3 linked regions of the Homo sapiens genome follow. The protein of the gene in region 1 purifies or fractionates together with the protein of each later gene. This does not show direct contact. Each region holds a gene or a part of one and is shown on either strand. Other genes may lie near its edges. The genes, in order: DEFB104A, PITRM1 and RMND1.

What was found.
Region 2: the proteins of DEFB104A (region 1) and PITRM1 purify together in Homo sapiens (affinity purification with mass spectrometry, with the first as the bait; 2 studies listed by BioGRID). This does not show direct contact.
Region 3: the proteins of DEFB104A (region 1) and RMND1 purify together in Homo sapiens (affinity purification with mass spectrometry, with the first as the bait; 2 studies listed by BioGRID). This does not show direct contact.

Annotation. Positions count from the first base shown.
Region 1 is NC_000008.11:7,834,378-7,838,129, reverse strand, and holds the start of DEFB104A (beta-defensin 104 precursor), read right to left. Parts: upstream 1,695-3,752; 5' UTR 1,646-1,694; coding exon 1,588-1,645; intron 1-1,587. UniProt on the Homo sapiens protein: Has antimicrobial activity. Synergistic effects with lysozyme and DEFB103.
Region 2 is NC_000010.11:3,166,113-3,169,864, forward strand, and holds part of PITRM1 (presequence protease, mitochondrial isoform 2 precursor), read right to left. Parts: intron 931-3,752; coding exon 824-930; intron 269-823; coding exon 117-268; intron 1-116. UniProt on the Homo sapiens protein: Metalloendopeptidase of the mitochondrial matrix that functions in peptide cleavage and degradation rather than in protein processing. Has an ATP-independent activity. Specifically cleaves peptides in the range of 5 to 65 residues.
Region 3 is NC_000006.12:151,417,484-151,421,235, forward strand, and holds part of RMND1 (required for meiotic nuclear division protein 1 homolog), read right to left. Parts: intron 1-3,752. UniProt on the Homo sapiens protein: Required for mitochondrial translation, possibly by coordinating the assembly or maintenance of the mitochondrial ribosome.

The sequences.
Region 1 (3,752 bases):
GCTGTAAAATGTTTCTTATCACACTTAAAGTCTGTGTTGATGTTCATGATGGAAAGTGTAATGAGGCATGTCCAACCCCCACTTCCTTTCATGGCCTGAAGCAGTCTTTCAGATTAAATTTTAAGAGCCCTGGCTGAGGAGGGAGTCCATTTAGATGGTTGGGGAGGGGGCTTAGAATTTTATTTTTGGTTGACAGCACCCATCCCCAGTCCCTGTGGGTATCTGAGGGGCTGACAGTGTGTGACAGCCAAACTTACCCAAAGCAGGGGTGGCAGGAGAAGAGGCAGGCAGCGCATGTCATTCACCCTCACCCACTTCTGCCACTTCCCTCCCTAATCCTCTTCCTGCTAATGGTCTTTCTCAGAATTCAACTGCAGAGGACAGTCTGACCCAGCCCTCTGCAGCCAAGTGTGGATAATGGCAGCCAGCTCTGCGGTGCATTCTTCGGGATCTGGAGGGATCCCTGACCCAGGCTTTCCATCCCAAGTTCTTTGTCTTGGGATCAAAGGTTGAAGAAAACCTGTTCTTTGATAAATTGCTATCATATTTTAACAGACCTGGAACATGCCCATAGCAGAATTTCACAGAAGTGTCTTTGGGAAATGACACGGGAAGAAAGAAAAAGGAAGAGTTAACCTAAACAGGTACCCTCTGAAAAAAAATCATTAACCCATCTGAATCACAGTGGAGGCACAGCCCGGAAGGGCAAAAAGATGGGTGCTGGGTGTCTGTCAAAGCCCCATAAAATTGACTGAGCAGCTTGGAAGAGAAGATCCGATGGCTTCTACGAGTCAAAACAATTGGTTTCGTCCCAGCACTGCTAGACTTGTTAAGCAACTCTAAAAATCTTATTTTCTCTCACTGTACCATAGAGAATGCTGCTCAGCTTGTAAAAGAAGGGAATTAGATTAGGTGCTCTCTCATATCCATTGCAAATATATTAAGAAATACATGCTTCTGGGGACATAGATTAACGTAGGAGTCAGAAGATTGCTGACATCTCAGTCTAAAATTTCCTGAGCAGAGTTCAAAGGCACCTGCTATTTGTGTTGTCAGTAAATTACGTTCTTGCCTACTGAAATCACTGCATCCCCTTTAACCCTAATCATCTGACTTGATATGAAAAGTTGCAAAATTTAGGAGGATGAGTAGGCGCCCTTTTCTGTGCAGAGTAAAGCTGTTCAGAAGGAGGAGGATGGGGGAAGGCATCTTATTCTACAAAATCAACAATGAATAATTGCTGTTGCCCTGCAATGGAACAAGCATGGCTAGTGAGTCCTCATTGCTGAGGATTCCATGAGGAATTGTTACCGTGTGTGGCCAGGGTGCCAAGGACATCTAGGACTCCTGATCCCTACGTTTCTTTTTTCCTCCTTGAGCTAGTAAGCCTCGTGGCTGTAAGGTGCATACAAGGACTGCCACATACTGCATTTTACTAATGGACCCAATGAAAGCAAAGAGAAAAAAGGCTGAGATTGAAGAAGGTTACTCCATCCTTCAGGATTTATTTTCTAAATCAAATGTTTTTCTTCTCCCCCTGTCATCCCCAGCAACTGTGTATATTTCCAGCTGAGAGTCCCTTTTTACCTGGAAGATCTTGATAGAGTAGAAGAGAAATGGCTAATAGCAGCACAAGTCTCTGCATAATGCTGGGGCTGCTGGCGAGAAGCAGACGCAAGTCGGAGGGAATCACCCCAGGCAGGAGCAGGGCAGGTGTATTTATGGGCAGAGGCTGCTCTTGATTACTGAGGCTTATCAAAATGCAGCGTTCCTTGGTGAACACTCACCAAGGCACAGTGTGGGGGAGGTGTTGGGGCTACAGAAATGCCAGCTGGGCAGTGTTGAGGGTGGGGAGAGAGTATTACCATAGGTAAAGTCCAAGTCACTTCACTTGCTTCCCTGAATCGTTTCTGAAGCAAGAACTGGATTAGATGATCTCTAAGATACCTTCCAGCCTTGACATTCCTCAATTCTGGTGAGAGGACTTTCTCTTCCATTTCAGTACATTTCAGTCAGGAGATTCTTGTTGAAAATTGTGATGTGGCTAATGGAATTGAAGTCCATAGCCCCCAAGACCTCTCTGAAGTAAACATTGAAACAAACATACAATGTCAAGGAGAAGAATGGCATGGAGCGTGGGGAGGTCATAAATGCGTGAAAGGTCCCAGGACATTTCTGTGATAGAAAGAGTGTAGGATGAGGATGACAAGTGACAACAAGGAATACTTGATGGCGGGCATTGTCCAAGGGTGGGATTGTAACCACAGAGCATCAGGCTCACTTAGGGCTTAGGTGAAAAGGAGGACAAGAATGAGAAGAGAGGTTAAAAGGAGACAATTCATGAGAATGCTGTATTTCTAACAATGGCTTCAAATAAAACATAACCTTCCAGAGAGCATACGCCTGGCCCTCAACCCGGGGTGTATGCTCCCTGGATTTAACCCCAACCCCACCCGAGGCAAAACATATAGAGCATATGCTCCTGGCATTTGCCCTTAGGGAAAACACCAGATAATTTTATTTTAAGAAAAAAAAAATACTTCATTTCTCTAAAATGAAGTACTTTAGAGAAAGTAAAAACGTCCAATCTTGAAAGTTGACATTCTCGAATAAGCTCCCCTTATTCTAGAACACAGATTAGACAAAGCCTGACAGACATACGTTGCTTGCACATCCTAAGCAAAATCTAGCAGTCAGTGTGTCTTCCCCAGAGTTCTCACTTAGGGGAGAATGTGATGGAAAACCAGGTCTCCTTTCACAGTAACGAAATAGAATAGAACATCAGAAATCATAAACTATGCCAGTTTGGGTGCTCCATGAAGCATTTATCAACAGGAATTAGAAAGGAAATAAATTTATTGGGAAATGCCTGTGAAAGATAAAGGGGAGCCAGGCGCAGTGGCTCACACCTGTAAATCTCAGCACTTGGGGAGGCTGAGCGAGGGAGGAGGATCATGTGAGCTCAGGGGTTTGAGTCCATCATGGACGGCATAGAGAGACCCCGACTCTACACAAAAAGAAAATTAGCCAGGGATGGTGGTGTGTCCCTGTAGTCCCAGCTACTTGGGAGGCTGAGGCAGGGGGGTCTCTTGAGCCCGGAAGTTCGAGGTTGCAGTAAGCTATGATGGCACTACTGCACTCCAGTGTAGTAGGCAATACAGCAAAACCTTGTCTCTGAAAAAAATAAAATAAAATAAAAATTCAAAACAAAAAGATGAAGGGGAGAGGGAGCAAGATTGAGTAGGGAAAGTCTTCAGAACATGATGTCAATTAACACCTGTGAAAAGGTTTGGAGTCGGGGGAGCCTCAGACTACAGTGCAGAAAATTTCAGCATTGCCAGTGGGGAACCCCAGGGCAAAGACTGTCCTACACCAGCAGACATGGCCCAGCTCTAGTCCACATTGTGCTCATTCACTGCCTGGAAGCAGCCAGGGCAAGAGTGGTAGCCATGGGAATCCTGCCGCAGGTTACAAACGTGCAGCACGTAGAGGCCGTCGGATACTCTCCTCACAGCAGACACACAGCAAGCACAAATGTGCAGGATCCATGGGACCCTCCTAGCCTGCCACATGTCAGGCTTTAGTAATTTTTGATGATGAGCTTCAAGGGAAAAACATCAGCCAATATTCAAGGTCATCTATGTGACCAGGATTCTGAAGAAAACTGAAAAATTCTGATGATAATAAATATTCAGCAATTCTTCAAAAAAAAAAAAAAAGTAATTCATATACAGGGACTGAATAACCAAACT
Region 2 (3,752 bases), on another chromosome or scaffold:
ATTTTTCTAGAACATGAATTGCCCACTCCCCTCATTCCTTCTCAGAAACTAACTGAATTCCAGTGGGTGTGCCTGGCAAACCCAAAAGCAGTTTCTGTTCAGGATGCTGGTCTTACCTGTGAAGGCGTTCATGAACGTGGAGAGGGACCGGTTCAACATTTTGAAGAAAGGGTCTCTGCACGGATATTTCTGAGACCCACAAAGGACGGTATGCTCAAGAATGTGAGGAACACCAGTACTGTCCATGGGAGTAGTACGGAACTGCACGCTAGGGAAGGAGAATGACCAGAACGCAAAAGGTTCAGCTTAGTGCTGCGGACACAGTTCCCAGATGCATCATCACCTCAGGCTACTAGAAATCATCATTCTGACACCACAATCCTCCAGCACAGGGTTTTCCAACTATAATGTAAATCATTGACTCAGACTGTAAAATTGTATTTTGATGAGATTATAAGTCAGTGTAAACTTTTCCTTATTTTTCAAGATGCTCTGTCAATAAAAATACTAGTGAGATGATATTTTAAACCACGTAATGTATAGCCATGTTTTAAATCAAGCTTGTCCAACCCGCAGCCTGCAGCCCGCATGCTCAGGATGGCTTGAAATGCAGCCCAACACAAATTCATACACTTTCTTAAAACATTGAGGGGTCCTTTATTTATTATTTTTAGCTCATCAGCTGTCCTTAGTGTTAGTGTATTTTATGCGTGGCCTAAGACAGTTGTTCTTCTTCCATTGTGGCACAGGGAAGCCAAAAGAATGGACATTCCTGATTTAAATAAAAACATTCAAGACCATGTTCTTACAATGCACCACACACCTGAACAGATTATTCGTGTCTTCTCTGGCCAGGTGTAAATACCTGGCTCCTGTGTCATCATGGGTGAGCTTCACTGCAGTCAGGAACAGCTCGGGAACAGATGTCACCTGAGTTAACAAGAAAAACACGACCAGTTAAACTTAGACAAAATGGCCTTTGAAATGGTTATGTTCGACACACTGAGAAAACTGGCTTTTCTGCCTGAAATTAGATGATGCCGGGAAGGCAGTATTTCAGAGCTGGAGAGAAGAGAACCATCTTGTCCAGGTCCCTTATCCTACAAACAAGGAAAGACAGACCTAAAAAAGGCAGATGAGAATATGTGTGTGTGTGTATAGAAAGAGAGAGAGAGCGAGCGAGCGAGCGAGCGCGAGAGCGCACGCGCTTACTACTGGCTAGGTATTTTAGATTTTTTTATTTTTTAAATTTTTTATTCTTTTTTTGGCTAGGCATTTTCTAATCATGTCACATATAATCCTGTGAGGGAGGTATTCTCATACTCATTTACAGACGAAAAAACCGAGGCTCAGGGTGATGAAATAAGCTGCCTAAATCACAGAGCCAGGATTCACCCTGGTGTCTGCCCTTCCCATGGTACCATGCTGCACCTAAGTAACAGAGCGCCCTTTCCAATGTCTGCTGAGTGTCTCCTGCTTTTGTGTGCTGTGCCTCAGTAACACAGCGCCCCTTCCAATGTCTGCTGAGTGTCTCCTGCTTTTGTGTGCTGCGCCTCAGTAACACAGCACCCCTTCCAACGTTGGCTGTGTGTCTGTTTCTGTGCATATCATCTCCTGTAGTGCGCAGAACGGGCCTGCAAGGAGGGGAAATGCTAGAGTGGGCTAGCCTGCGACAGCAGGGAGAGGCTCTAGGATCAGCCTTTGCTTCTCTTAGTTTAGGATGGGTTCTCGGTGGTAGCTAGAAGCACAAAGCTGTGGCTTCCAGAACAGCTGGAGGGGCCGGGAGGATAGAAATGCCCACAAGACAGACGAAAGACTCCCCACTCCTGGGGCGGCGTGGAAGGTCATCTCCTACTTTAGGTAAGCCTCCTGGTAAGTGACCATACTCCTCGGTATGAAAGAAACTGTCTTCTCTTCCAGTCATGCCAGCCGGCCCTCTCCCTCAATCACACACCACGTCCCTGTGATCACCACACCACTCACCACCCCCTCCTGCCAGGTGCCATGAGTCACCTGGCCAAGCGCACACAGTAAGTCGCTGGCCAAGGTCAGACCTCGGGTCTCCTCAGCCCAATCTAGGGAGCCTGCCACGCAACAGTCATGCATAAAGCAGACCACTATGACCTGCATCATCTACCGCCGCGAAATTACTTCTGTTTCCAAGCTCACTGTACTTTGTAACAGATGATCAATGCTTTTGAAGTCAGCAGATACAGTGAGATGTTTGCTTTCTAATAATATATAGCTTTAATAATAATAGCTTTCATGGTAGCTATTTCTCAAACAAGAATCATGACTTATCGTAAGTTTCTATGGCTGGACACAGTGGCTCACACCTATAATCCCAGCACTTTGGAAGGCCAAGGTGATATGGTTTGGCTGTGTCCCCACCCAAATCTCATCTTGAATTGTAGTTTCCATAATCCCCACATGTTGTGGGAGGGACCTGGTGGGAGGTAATTGAATCAAGAGGGCGGTTTCCTCCATGTTATTCTCGTGACAGTGAGCACGTTCTCATGAGAGCTGACGGTTTTATAAGGGGCTTCCCCCTTCACTTGATCCTCATTCTCTCCCCTGCCGCCCTGTGAAGAGATGCCTTCCACCACGATTGTGTTTCCTGAGGCCTCCCCAGCCATGCAGAACTGTGAGTCAATTAAACCTCTTCACTTTTTAGCTCATACTTTATAAATTACCCAGTCTTGGGTATTTCTTCATAGCAGTGTGAGACTAGACTAATACACAAGCAAAAGGATTGCTTGAACCCAGGAGTTTGAGACCAGTCTAGGCAACAAAGTTTCCATCTACACACACACACACACACACACACACACACACACACACACACACACACACAATTAGCCAGGCGTGGTGGCACCTTGTCCCAGCTACTTGGCAAGAGGATCGCTTGAGCCCAGGAGTTCGAGGCTGCAGTGAGCCAAGATCATACCACCACACTCCAGCCTGGGCGACAGGGTGAGTCCCAGTCTCAAAAGTAAATACGTTTCTATAAAATTTGAGAAATAAAGGAGGAGAATCTACCGCTGTGGGTGAGGCCCTTATTAACAGTAACCTGTACCATAAACCCAAGTGTCTTTGCCTGGCCTTTGCAGGATTTCACAAACGCTCCAAGTCTTTTCATGAGTCCCATGCCTGGACCTTGTCTGGCGCACCCTAGTCACTGCCCTGGCTCCCTTGCTGGAGCCCTGACCGAAGGCAGCCACGTTCTCACACCACCCTCTCCAGGAGCTCTTCCCTCTGCCCCCAGCAGCAGCAGCTCCCACTCCTCCTCCTGCCCTTGTCCTTGGCCCTCCGCGTGGCGTCCACCATGTGCCTCCGGTCACAGCCGCAGCAGTCTTTCTAGACAGTAAGCTGTTTGTCTTTCACGTTTGCTATAACATCAAGCATAGCACAAAGCCAACAGCTGGCCAAATACATGAAGCGTGTCATTTTCAGTTACCATGCTAAATAGAAACAATGCAAAAGGTTTAGGCAAAATAACAAAACAAAAACCAAATGAATCTATTTTAATACAGACCCAAGTAAGTACAGGTCCACAATTGCTTCTTTATCATTCTGAAACCCGAATGGCTCAGAAAACTGAAAGGTTCTGCGGACGTTTAGAGCAAGCTATTTGATGGCAAAACCTGACTAAACAGATCAGGGCAGTGAGTCTTCATGCTCATGCTCAGTGAAACATCAGGTTTGGCTGCAGAAACGCTAGTGTGTCTGATTACAGAGACCCAGCTGGAAGT
Region 3 (3,752 bases), on another chromosome or scaffold:
TATGAAAACTTTTTTTTTTTTGGTAAGAGAGAGGGTCTTGCTATGTTACCCGGGATGGAGTGCAGTGGTGTGATCACAACTCACTGCAAACTGAACTCCTGGGCTCAAGCTGTTCTCCTGCCTCAGCCTCCCATGTAGCTGGAACTACAGGCATGTGGCATTGCATGTGGCTGAAAACATTTGTTAATGCTGACCTTTGCAAAATACTGCCAACAAACATGTAAATAAAATTTACAAATGAGTTTCAAACTTCTGAACCAAATTAATTCAATCTTTAATACCAACATTATTTATGAAGTACACAGAAAAAAACTCATTTTGTTTTCAATTTTTTTTTTTTTTTTGAGACAGAGTCACTCTTGTCACCCAGGCTGGAGTACAATGGCATGATCTCAGCTCACTGCAACCTCTGCCTCCCAGATTTAAGCAATTCTCCTGCCTCAGCCTCCCAAGTAGCTGGGATTACAGGTGCCTACCATCACACCTGGCTAATTTTTTGTATTTTTAGTAAAGGGTTTTACCAAGTTGGCCAGGCTGGTCTCGAACTCCTGACCTCACGTGATCTGCCTACCTCAGCCTCCCAAAGTGCTGGGATTACAGGTGTGAGCCACCATTCCCAGCCTAAACTTTTTTTATTAAAAATTTTAGGGCCAGGCATGGTGGTTCATGCCTGTAATCCCAGCACTTTGGAAGGCCAAGGCGGGCAGATTGCTCGAGTCTGTGAGTTCAAGACCAACCTGGACAGCACAGCGAAACCCTATCTCTACAAAAAATACAAGAACTAGCCAGGTGTGGTGGTGTATGCCTGTAGTCCCAGCTACTTGGGAGGCTGAGGTGGGAGGATCATGTGAACCTCGGAGGCAGAGGCTGCAGTGAGCCAAGACTGTGACACTGTACTCCAGCCTAGGCAACATAGTGAGACCCCATCTCAAATAAAAAAAAAATTTAATATGTCCACACTTTTTTGTTTTTTATTTAAAAAATTTTTTTAGAGATAATGTCTTCATATGTCACCCAGTTTGGGGTGCAGTGACACAATCATAGCTTACCGCAGCCTCAAACTCCTGGGCTCAAGTGATCTTCCTGCCTCAGCCTCCTGAGCAGATCAAGATATAAACAGGTAAAAATTGATAAATCTTAACTCTTATTCTTATCTGTATCTTTCCCTATCAGTAATCCCTTCTAGTTTCCGCTGTATCCTTCCAGTGTTTATGCAAACACTAGACAAGCAAGCATAAACATACACACTCTCTCTCTTAATTTCTACATTTTAATATAAGAAGTCTGTGCTTACTTTTTTTTCTGAGACAGAGTTTTGTTCTTGTTGCCCAGGCTGGAGTGTATTGGCGCGATCTTGGCTCACCACAACCTCCACCTCTTGGGTTCAAGCAATTCTCCTGCCTCAGCCTCCCGAGTAGCTAGGATTACAGGCATGTGCCACCACGCCCGGCTAATTTTGTATTTTTAGTAAAGATGGGGTTTCTCCATGTTGGTCAGGCTGGTCTTGAACTCCTGACCTCAGATGATCCACTGGCCTCGGCCTCCCAAAGTGTTGGGATTACAGATGTGAGCCACCGTGCCCAGCCTTTTTCTTTTTTGAGACAGAATCTTGCTCTGTCGCCCAGGCTGGAGTGCAGTGGCATGATCCTGGCTCCACTGCAACCTTCGCCTCCTGGGTTCAACCAATTCTCATGCCTCAGCCTCCCAAGAAGCTGGGATTACAGGCGCACACCACCATTCCTGGCTAATTTTTGTATTTTTGGTAGAGATGGGGTTTCATCATGTTAGCCAGGCTGGTCTCGAGCTCCCAGCCTCAAGCAATCCACCTGTCTCAGCCTCCCAAAGTGCTGGCATTACAGGTGTGAGCCACCGTGCCTGGCCTTACACTTAGATGTTTAACTAAATAAAAATCTAAGTTATGAAAGTACACATAAACTGATGTGGTGGCTCACACCTGTAATCCCAGCACTTTGGGAGGCCTAGGGAGGAGGATTGCTTGAGCAAGGGTTTGAGACCCTGTCTCTACAAATTATTTTTAAAATTAGCTGGGTGTGGTGGAGCACTCCTGTGGTCCCAGCTACCCAGGAGGGTGAGGCAGGAGGAATCCCTGAGCCCAGGAGATCAAGGCTTTGGTGAGCTATGATCATGCCACTGCACTCTAGTCTGGGTGACAAGCAAGACCCTGTTTAAAAAAAAAAAAAAAAAAAGTAACACATACATACCTGTTCACGATTAAAAAAAAAAGGAAAATATCCTAGAGAAGGATTCAGAAAAATGGTAGGCTCTCTTATGCTACCACACTACTTAAATCCTTTATTCTCCCCAAGGACAGGCCTGTAGAGACACTTTGCTGTGTACTTCCAGATCTTTCTGTATTCATACATGCATGTGTGTGCAAGCAAACACATGTACATGTGTATGCATATAAAGATAAACATGAATATTTTTATTTGCTTACACAAATGGGATCATACCCTATATAAATTTAGATTTAGTTTTTTAATCTAATATTATCTGCCATGTTTATTTTCACAGATGTATCACATTCCTTATATTAACAAATAAGCATTTTTATTGTACAGGTAAGGAAACAGGATAGTAAAAGTAAGCCTTTATAGAAACTATTCACAAACCTACGTATATTTAGTCCTAACTATTCAGTTTGGATATTATAATTCACTACATCAATTTCTGCTTGCATGACCAAGAGAACAGGAGAGAAGAATCTCTCTACCCTACTTCTCAGAGAATTTGAGGCTTCAGATATGCTGCAGGATGCTCCTGATGGATGGGTTTTTAAGTTTTGTTGGTACCCTGAACTATAGGTCCTGAGCTATGAGAGATACACAGACAATGAAACACTGTATCACTTCTCTCCAGGCAGAGCATCTAAGGAGAATATGGAAAAACAAGTCTTAGGTGAACATTTGCAGTGAGCTCTGGTAACTCATTCCACATGCTAGAAGGGATAAACTGGACAATGCTGCCTGTGAGAAAAACACCAACATCCGGGATGTTTCATTCCGTAAATCCTGGGACAACTACAAGAATAATAAAAGCTGAAAACCTTTCCAGATACTTATTTAAAATGATTCATCAGTTTTTAGACATAGTTATTCCCATTTTAACATCTCGAGGCATCTTAAAATTAATGGTGTCTGACAGGTGGCACTTGAGACTTACTTGTCTTTGCCTTAAATAATTTATTTTCTTATGCTTTCCTTTTCATATATGCCCAAGAGGGAATGTGATATAATTTATATCCAGCTAAGATTAAAAGATATTTCAGTAAGTGTAAAATTTTAATCCTCTGATAAAAAAAGTATTGTCATAGTTTAACTGGCAGCAGTTTTTCTCTCCAGTGGCATCTTGGTGTCTCAGATTCAAAGAAACTTTTCTGTAGCAATTAAGCCTATTTAGCATTATGATGCAGTGATATATTTTTACAGAGAATTCCCATTAACCAAATTCAGGAATATGTCTTTCTACCTTCAAAGAACACCTACTGTGCTCCTTAATGTGGGTTTAATGTAGATGAATCGTGATCTCTTTTGCACATGCGTGATTTCTTTCAGTACAGTCTTAACACAGCCCAACTACTTCTAATGGGTAAGAGTTCTCCCTGCTTATAATCAATGAAATGAAAACAGCTACAGTTCCCATAAACGTGTAAATGTTTGCTCTTCACCACAGAACTATGGGAATGTTTTCTTGAGATTGTTAAATATATGAAATATTTTATTTAGAGAGAA